Linked DNA regions of Homo sapiens: all the other regions are reported to be linked to region 1. The links are microRNA targets in miRTarBase. Many come from high-throughput screens and were not tested one by one. Region 1 holds a microRNA gene; each other region holds the end of a gene's coding sequence.

Region 1 (3,348 bases):
TCCCATCTTTCTTGCCTATTAAACTCTCTGCTCCTTAAAATCACACCAGGTGTGTCCGTGTCGTTTTTTCCAATTCAACTCGAGAGGAAGAACCTGGTATTCCTCCATTCATCAGAGCTGTATCAATATGATACGATAATATGGGTGAATCTCAAATATATTATGCTAAGTGAAAGAAGCTAGGCACAAGAGGCTACATCCCAAATTACTTCATTTATATGACACTCTGGAAAAGGTCGGACTAGGGACAGAGGATGGATCAGTGGTTCCCAGGGATTCCAGGTGGGGCAGCACGAGGGTGTATAGGATGATAGAGCTGTCCTGTATCCTCTCTGTGGTGGTAATTACTTGAATCTATGTATGTGTTAAAACTTGAAGAACTGTGCACCAAAAAGAGTGAATTTTACTATACATACATTTAAAAGTAAACTTTAAAAAGTGGCTTGTCAGCAATGCACAGAACAGCTCATTTCTATTGCAACAAACTATTGTGATTACTTTTGTATAAGTTACACATTTGGTCTTCACAATTTGAACCCCAATTGTGACACTATGCAAAGGGGGAAAAGTTCCCTGAGATTGTGTGATCAGTAAAAGATTATATTTACATTTAAATATCTTCAGTGTTTTTGACTTTAGCAAGACAAATGAGAATCTTTGATGGTGTTTGGTTTGTTGACCAGCCAGTTCAAATTACAGCTGGGTGGTTACCAAAGCTGGACAGATTACAGTATGGAATTAAAGTCTGAACAGAGTATGGGAATGCTAGCTTGAAACAAAAATAGAGTTTTGGGGAAAAAGAGCTTGGGAATTAATTGCATTCCTTGAATTCATTCCTTGGAAGTGTTTCATGCTGGCTCCCACAGTGGCTCAGGTGTACATGCTTTGTTTAGTAGTTGATCCTTTGAGCCATAGGAATTTTGGAATGTAATATGTTTGTTCTCCACCCACCCCGTGCCCATGAATCTCTTTTAGTAGGTTGATTTATTCACTCTTTAACTTCTATTGCACCTGAGTATACCAACAGTAGGATTAGGCTAGAAAGTATGCAGTCATAAGCTGAAATCAACAGGGACAAGTGATTAACAGGTGGACAGTGTTGAGCTTGCCAGGTCACCACTCTCATGGTCAATATTTTCTTTGTGCTATTTTTGGCTTGGTTCCACATCAGAGAGTTCAAACTCTGAAGTTGTAAAGATACTGCTTTTAAGAAAAATCAGCTCATGTCTGGACCTTGATTTAATCGTTTATTCATCTTTTTATAGTACTCTCTGTTCCCAAGATAAGCTACTTTATAAGGCAAAATTTCCACCTCGGCATCATTTCATATAAACATTTAATGCTGAAACTCCAGGTTACATCTGGCGTCTAATGATGAACGCAGACAGATGCTCCTATCCAGCCATGCCCTCTGCCACTCCGCGGGGTGCTGCTTTCCATTTCCTCTCTGTGTCTGTCAGCACCAGGGCCGAGCTTTTCTTCCGGGATAGATGCTGAGCTGACTCTGCACTCAAAGCGCTTCAAATGATGCTGATTGAAATCAGATGCTATAAAATGTTCATCACTTAGTTTCATTTATTAGTTTAGAGTGGCGTGCTATGCAAGCTTTTTGCTGTTTATTTATATTTTTACTTTAACTTTTATTAAAGTAATACAAGCATGAATTTTATAGAGCCAAACAATTCTACAATGTTCATTAACACAAATAGTAGTTGCTCCTTGCCTCTTCTCCAGAAACACCACTTTCAATTATCTTAGCTAATGCTATTGTCAGTAACCTCTACATCTCTAAATAAAATGCTTATATTGCTTTCCTTGATTTTTCAGCTTTATGCATTCATCTATTGGCTTATCCCTTTGCAAATGAAGAATTTGGCTGTCCTTCCTTCTCTTATTCTCAGGAAAAACACACACACCCTTCTCATCTGCTTATCTTTCTAATCTGGTTATATCATAATTTTTGTTAGCTCTTTGTTGAGCATTTATATGATTACAACCATGAAAATACTAAACTAAGCCATGCATCAAACTATAATGACTTTTCCTATCCTAGCCACTCTTTGCTTCCCTGGATTAAAATTTTATTATTATTATTGATGCTTATCACTAATTCAAACACAAACTCACTTAATTATACAAACATCCTCTTAAGACAGTCAGAGCATCACATATCTTATCAATCCAATCTTCACAAAATCTCTCCCAGATTCTCCAACATACTTCAGTCTAGATCGGCAGTCCCCAACCTTTTTGGCACCAGGGACCGGTTTCATGGAAGACAATTTTTCCACAGACAATGGGGGATGGTTTTGGAATGAAACTGGTCCACCCTAGATCATCAGGCATTAGATTCTCATAGGAGCATGCAACCTAGACCACTCGCATGTGCAGTTCAGAGTAGGGTTCATGCCCCTGTGAGAATCTAATGCCACCAGTGATTCGACAGGAGGCTGAGCTCGGGCAGTAATGCTCACTCACCTGTCATCTATCTCCTGCTGTGTGGCCCGGTTCCTAACAGGCCACCGACCAGTACCAGTCCACAGCCCAGGAGTTGGGGACCCCTAGTCTAGACCGTTCTCAACAACTGGGGCCAAACTGTCAACCTGGGACTTCTCCATCTTCCTGGGAATTCCCTTCACTTCTCTCATGTTGGATCTCCTGTTTCCTGTACGTCTTCTTTCCTGATTTACTCCTTTATCTTGGTGAAGCATATCTTTTAGCAACTTCCTACTATGAAGGAATAAAGGTGCATAGGAAATACAATATCTGGAACATTGCCTTTCTAAGATGTCTTTATTCAATCCTCATACTCAATTGATTTTTTTTTTTTTTTTTTTTGAGATAGAGTCTCGCCGTGTCGCCCAGGCTGGAGTGCAATGGCGTGATCTTGGCTTACTACAACCTCCGCCGCCCAGGTTCAAGTGATTCTTGTGCCTCAGCCTCCCAAGTAGCTGGTACTACAGGCGCCCGCCACCAAGCCCGGCTAATTTGTTTGTATTTTTAGTAGAGACAGGGTTTCACCATGTTGGTCAGGCTGGTCTCGAACTCCTGACGTCAGGTGATCCGCCCACATTGGCCTCCCAAAGTGCTAGGATTACAGGTGTAAGCTAACACACCCAGCCCTTAATTGATATTTTGACTATGTATAGAATTCTGGCTGGGTGGGGTGGCTCACACCTGTAATCCCAGCACTTTGGGAGGCCGAGGTGGGCAGATCACGAGGTCAGGAGATCGAGACCATCCTGGCTAACTCGGTGAAACCCCGTCTCTACTAAAAATACAAAAAATTAGCCGGGCGTGGTGGCAGGCGCCTGTGGCCCAACTACTTGGGAGGCTGAGGCAAGAGAA
Region 2 (3,348 bases), not on the chromosome of region 1:
TCCTTGTGCTTACACGTGAAGCATGTGATTTCAGCTGGGAGGCCCAAGTGACCTGCCATGGGGCCTTCCCAGGTTAGGGCTGAAGTCCATGCCTGAAAAGGGTCAGCCCTGCTCAGGCCTCAGCTGGTGGGCTGCGGGTCCCAATCCTGAGGCTTGAAATGAGCATGGGGGTGCCCCACACTCGGTGCAGTGGCCGGGGTATGTGTGGGGATACCTGGCAGGCCCAAGCCCAAGGCTGTTCTCTACCCCTTTTTTTGGCTAGGGTCCTGAGAGGCAGGTGGAGGGGGACGGGCCAGGGCGCCCCTGCATTCCTCACCCGGGGCCTGCCTCTCAGGCACACCTCATCTGAACTTCATTACTCCTTCTTTTCCAGCTCCTTCCCGAACTCACAAATCCTGACGAGCTCCTGTCTTATCTGGACCCCCCCGACCTGCCGAGCAATAGTAACGATGACCTCCTGTCTCTATTTGAGAACAACTGAGGGCCACCCGGTCGGGGCCATCCCTCCACACTCTGCATCCTACCCCACCTACCCAACACACTTTTCCACCTGGGAGCCTGTGCCCTCAGACCGCCCCGCACCAGAGCCACGGGCTGTGGGGCGGGGAGCCCTCCCCCGCTGCAGCCCTCTCAGAACAGAGGGGTAGGGAGGGTGCACCAGTGCACCAGGAAGGCTGTGTGGGTCTGGAGCCCACGTCCCACCTCCACACCCTTGGCTTGGGCCCATGCCCAGCGCAGGCCTGAAGACCACCCTCCCGAGAGGAACCAGCCCGGTAAGAGGGCACACGCTGATGCGGCTTCCCGGTCCCTCCGCGTGTGCCGATTCCAGATGACCTTCCAGTGTCCCCAAGGTTCTTCCATCTTCTAGACTGTAACCCTGCCTCCCTGCTTCCTGGTCCAGAGCCTCCCTCCAGTGACTGTGGAGCCTGAGAAGGCCCCCGGGCCCCAGCATGGGCCCCGAGCCTTGGAGGAGCACTGGCAGTTGGTGGCAGTGAGACCAGCCCACCCACCACCACCCACCACAGAAAAGCACAAACCTCTGGGAAAGACAACGTCTCTCGGGGGCCAGGGGTCATCGGTTTGACCCCTGACCTATAAGCCAAGATACCCCATAAACACACTCAGAAAGCAGAGAAAAAGGACAAGAGTCTGTGTTTGAGAGGGGGTCTGCCATTCCTGCTTGGGGACTGGTGGGGAAGAGGGCCAGGACATCTTCTGAGCCAGGACGTCCCTGAGGCTCCACCTCCAAGCTCAGACAGGGCCCAGGCTTGGGGAACAGAGAGAGCAGGTGTACACCCAACCAAAGTGATTGTGCCCTTGGTTGGGGGGCGCGGGCATATAACCTGTCAGAAGCAAACAGGAGCGGCAACTTCTAACTTTGCTCCAAGCCACTCTCTTTTTAAACAGCAACAATTTAAAGCTATGAAGTCACCTGGAGAAAAGGAACGTTGCTCTTGGACAGCAAGCAAACCATTTCTCTCCGTCTGTTCTGTTTTTCTCCTAGTCCCTCTCCTGCCACCTCTCCAAGACTTCCGTGGGACACCCACTTCCCTCTGTCCTAGTTCTCTTTGTCCAATCAGATGGCAAGGGCAGTGCGTGGAAAGGCCGGGGAGGTGCAGAAACCAGAGCCCAGGGCAATGGTGTCTGTCCAGCCCCTCCCTCTGTCCCTGTGCTCCAAGCTGCCCCCGGCTGCAGCCCAGGCCATGGACATGTGCACCAGTATGTACCTGCAGGCATGGGGGGGAGGGGGGCGTGTTTCTGGGCCTGCCCCAGACACTGCCCTTGGCTGCCAGCCTACCCTGCCTGCACTCCTCCACCATCACAATCTCACCCAAACTCCTGCTCACTCAAGCAAAAGCAGCCTCTGGCCTTCCCTCCACCGCTTTGCTCCATCTGGCTTACCACTCTCCAGGGCCTCCTGGGGAGCCTGTCCTGTGTTCACTTTGTTTCAGGCTGGTCTGTGCCCCGTGAGCCACATGGCCTAGGGTGATGCCAGGTTGTCCCGTCACTGGGGTCCCATCTGTAAATTCTTTGCGCCCTTCCCGGCTGCTGCCTGGGGCCCTTTCCTGCTCTCCCGTCCGCTGTGGGTGGTCCCCAGCTCTCCTCTGTGGGTTTTACCGGAAAGGTGGCCCCAGCTGTTGACTTCCAGTCACTGTCCCAGACGGCACAAGGTTTTCTGTAGGAAAGCTGCCATTGCCCCGGCCCCTTTTCTTCCTTTGTCCCGTTGTCGAGGTTTTTTCAAATAGCGTGTTGTTCAGTATGCAAATCAATTATTTTAAGAATCGCTTTTGTAAATATCTTTGTGAATATTTTAGTATCGTCTTTGATAATATTCAACATTTTCATGACCTGGTTATAGCCTTTGCTGGTGTTTTTAAAATACCTGGACTCAATGACAAAGACCGAGTCTTCTTTTTTTTTAAACAAAAACAAAAAAAGCAACCAGGGCTATTTGTACAGTTGAAGGGGTGAACAGAATGGGCGGCTGTGCTGGGAGTTGGAAGACCGGGCAGCCCGCTATTTAGAGCCATCCCTCAGTCAGCTGGCAGGGACAAGCCAACGCCAGGTAGCATGTGGCCACCCTTGCCCAGTGTCTGTGGCCTGGCAAGTGGCCACGCCCTGTGTCAGACCATCTGGGAATTAAGCTCCAGACAGACTTACAGATGCCTTCCTTAGGAGTTCTTGCTTCTTGCGTTGATACTTTGCCCCAGAAAGGCCTGGGATTCATTCTGGTTCTTATCAGGGTGTGTCCACACTCTGCTCACAGGTGGATCCACGGCTTTCCAGTGCGGAGAGTCGAGATGCTCCCTGCAGCCCAGGCCCCGGGCACCTCCTGCAACCATCTCTGGGCTCAGCACCTGAGGCGGGTTTCCTGGGTCCCCTCTCCAGCAAGCCTCCACCAGCAAGCTCGGCCCAGAGCTTCCCTTCCGGCTGGCTCTGAACCGTGCGTGGTGCCTACAGCCTGCAGTCTGGAGACAAGCTCTTCCGGAGTGCTCTGGGAGCCAGGCCAGGGTGTGAGGGAGGTGCAGAGGCATCCGGGGCGGGAGCAAGCCCCAGGTTGTGACAGGTGCAGGTAGACAACGCCCATAAACAGAGATGGTCCTGAACTCTGGAGAGATCCTTCCCTGATCCTTTCGGACGACTACTTGGAGCCATAAGTAACCTCAGCAAAAACGAGGCCTCTGCAAGCCACTTTTCCATGCCAAGCATCCACCCGGCCCACAGGCATGTTTCTGCCGCCACTCCGCAAGATGGACAGGGAGCCAGCAGGCAGGCGGGAAGGGCCAAGTACAGGCAATCACCCCCATCTTCTTGGTTTGAAGCTTTATCCATGTATCATGTTCCGTG
Region 3 (3,000 bases), not on the chromosome of region 1:
ATGTGCTGGTTTTTGTGTGGACATGTTTTCAGTTCCTTCAGGTAAATACTAAAGAGCAAGATTGCTGGATCACATGGTAAGAGCTTACCTAGTTTTTGTAAGAAACTGCTTAACTGTCTTCCAAAGTGGCTGTGCCATCTTGCGTTCCCACCAGCAAGGAATAAGAGTTCTGGTTGCTCCAACTTTCCCAGCATTTCATGCTGTCGGTGCTTTGGATTTTGGCCATTCTAATAGTTGTATAGTGGTCTGTTGTTCTAACTTGCATTTTCCTGATGACATGTTATATGGAACATCTTTTCATATGCTTATTTGCCACCTGTCTATCTTCTTTGCTGAGATATGTTAAGGGTTTTGGCCTGTTTTTAATCAGGTTGTTTTCTTACTGTTGAATTTTAAGAGTTCATTGTGGTTTTTGATTTACATTTCCCTAATTAGTGATGTTGAACATATTTTCATGTTTTTTGACCTACAGTTTTGTGTGTGTGTGTGTGTGTGTTTTTTTGAGACAGAGTCTCACTCTGTTACCTGGCTGGAGTGCAATGGCATGGTCTTGGCTCACTGCAACCTCCACCTCCTGGGTTCAAGCGATTCTCCTGCCTCAGCCTCCTGAATAGCTGGGACAACAGGTGCCCACCACCACACCCAGATAATTTTTGTATTTTTAGTAGATACGAGGTTTCACTATGTTGGCCAGGCTGTTCTCGAAATCCTGACCTCGTGATCCGCCTGCCTCGGCCTCCCAAAGTGCTGGGATTGCAAGCGTGAGCCACTGCACCTGGCCTAGTTTTGTTTTTGTTTTTGAGACAGAGTCTTGCTGTGTTGCCCAGGCTGGAGTGCAGTGGCACAGTCTCAGTTTACTGCAACCTCTGCCTCCCAGGTTCAAGTGATTCTCCTGCCTCAGCCTCCGAAGTAGCTGGGATTACAGGTATGCATCACCACGCCCAGCTAATTTTTATATTTTTAGTAGAGAAAGGGGTTTCGTCATGTTGGCCAGGCTGATCTCGAACTCCTGACCTCAAGTGATCCACCTGCCTTGGCCTCCCAAAATGCTAGGATTACAGGCATGAGCCACCACGCCTGGCCTGACCTAGTTTAAGCACACCAAAAGCTACTTTACATTTTTAAAAAGTGAATTTGATGTCTTTTGAAATCTCCTCTGTGCACTTGGGGAAGTCCCTGTCCTCTATCAACTTGAGAGGCTGGCTGCTGTGCTCACAAGCCTTCATTTACACAGCAAGCCTTCCTTTCAGGACGGCTGCAAAACGGAAGCCTAAAACAGTAGATGGTGACAGAATGGTATTGTTACCAGCAGGGAAATGGCAAGCTCGCCCCCTGGTGACAAGCTGGGGAGACAACAGAAAAAGCAAATTTTTTTTTTTTTTTGAGACGGAGTCTCACTCTATCGCCCAGGCTGGAGGGCAGTGGCGCAATCTCAGCTCACTGCAAGCTCCGCCTCCCGGGTTCAAGCAATTCTCCTGCCTCAGCCTCCCCAGTAGCTGGGACTACAGGCGCCTGCCACCACGCCCGGCTAATTTTTTGTATTTTTTAGTAGAGATGGGGTTTCCCCGTGTTAGCCAGGATGGTCATGATCTCCTGATCTCGTGATCCACCCGCCTTGGCCACCCAAAGTGCTGGGGTTACAGGCGTGAGCCACCGTGCCCGGCCACAAATGTTCTTAAAAGGCACAACCACCACAAAGAACATACTCTCTACGGTACCTGGAATCTGGAAAGAACACTAATTAACACAAACCGTAGGTCACTCAAAATTGTTCATTCACAGGGACAGTTAAAAAGGCTCAGTTCCAGGGGACAAATGTGTCACAAAGTCCTTGCTTACAAACTCCTAGCTGAAGCTGCCTTGGGAAGAATCTGCTCCCTCAGCATGATGGGCAGTGCCAGGCGACTACACTGGAGGTGCTAATTTTTAACTGCCAATGTCTCTTCTAGACGATGGCAGGCTGATGTTTCATCTTCTTCAGCAACCCTGAAGCATAACAGCCTTTAAGCTGTATGTTGCACGTCCCTCTTGATCTCTGTGAATTTACTGAAAGATGTGACTCTAAAGGCAAAACGAAGCCCACACCAATGATTATGTAAGTCAGAGGGTGGTAGTTGTGACTATTTAACTGTTCTTAGTTCTTTAAGACCTCAATTACGTAAACCAAGATACGTTCTGATTTTCAAGCCATCCTAACCAAAATAATAATGATGAAAATGATGACAGCTGATTCCTTTAGGCCCCGGGGCTGCTAATTTTTCAAACTTCCTGCTATCCTCCCTTCCCTACTACCAATCTCCAGGGCTCTCTAGTTTGCTCCTATTTTTCACAGAGTTGCCAGAGTTTGAAAACTAAGACCCCCATAAACATGGCTATCTTCACAGAACATCCAGATGAAGGAATATTGACTGTAATAAACATTGTACAGAACACCCAGATAAAGGAATATTGACTGAAATAAACATTGTAGGCTATACTCCAGTAGCTGGGGCAATGGATCCATGTAAATGGAGCTACAAATTCAAGTCCCAAGTTTTTTTGCTCCAGCAGGTTGACCTTCAAGGGCTGCATCAGTCTTCAGAAACAGGAGCTGCCAGCCTCAAGCAGTTTGTTGCCTGGGAGGGAGGGTGGACCACATTACCCAAATGTTAAGGGTTGGACACCTTTCTGCTGTTCTTTGTGTAGCTGCTGGGCTCGATTTTTTAGCACCTCGGCCTTGGCCTCATCCTTATCAACACCATCCCCCAGCTTGTACATGCGACTGGCATTGGCACAGGCCCAGATATGACCCAGGTCACAGGCTTTCATGGAGTATTTACATGCCAGGTCCATGTCCTTGGGAAAGCCTGGGGCACCCTGCAGGAACATGGCACTGAGGTTGAAGCAACTGGAAGTATAGCCACCATCACAGGCCCTTGTGTAGTAGTCCCTGGCCTTTCCCAAGTCAGGCTGGCCATCCTCATTAACCTGTCCATCATGTGCCAGGAGGCCAACGTTGTG

Evidence for each region. The annotated mature microRNA hsa-miR-4455 reads AGGGUGUGUGUGUUUUU and lies in region 1 at 1,903-1,919, opposite strand. An mRNA with a match to its seed (bases 2 to 7 or 8) in the 3' UTR can be bound and repressed. Matches are read on the target gene's strand: a 7mer-m8 pairs with bases 2 to 8, a 7mer-A1 pairs with bases 2 to 7 and ends in A, and an 8mer does both.
Region 2: miRTarBase lists ZMIZ1 as a target of hsa-miR-4455. Seed matches in the 3' UTR shown: 7mer-m8 at 706-712, 7mer-A1 at 1,293-1,299 and 7mer-A1 at 1,540-1,546.
Region 3: miRTarBase lists COA7 as a target of hsa-miR-4455. The part of its 3' UTR that is shown has no 7-base or 8-base seed match.

The regions. Positions count from the first base shown.
Region 1 is chr4:184,936,519-184,939,866 of GRCh38, forward strand. It overlaps MIR4455 (microRNA 4455), which reads right to left and starts at 1,922; the gene lies at 1,865-1,922.
Region 2 is chr10:79,312,269-79,315,616 of GRCh38, forward strand. It overlaps ZMIZ1 (zinc finger MIZ-type containing 1), which reads left to right. Exons shown (of 25, transcript NM_020338.4): 25 at 374-3,348. The coding sequence ends at 481. Among named protein-coding and RNA genes, the nearest start is that of PPIF, 34 kb to the right of the region's middle. RefSeq lists enhancers at 1-12, 770-1,269.
Region 3 is chr1:52,685,083-52,688,082 of GRCh38, forward strand. COA7 (cytochrome c oxidase assembly factor 7) reads right to left here. Exons shown (of 3, transcript NM_023077.3): 3 at 1-3,000. The coding sequence ends at 2,638. Among named protein-coding and RNA genes, the nearest start is that of COA7, 12 kb to the right of the region's middle. RefSeq lists a silencer at 2,881-3,000.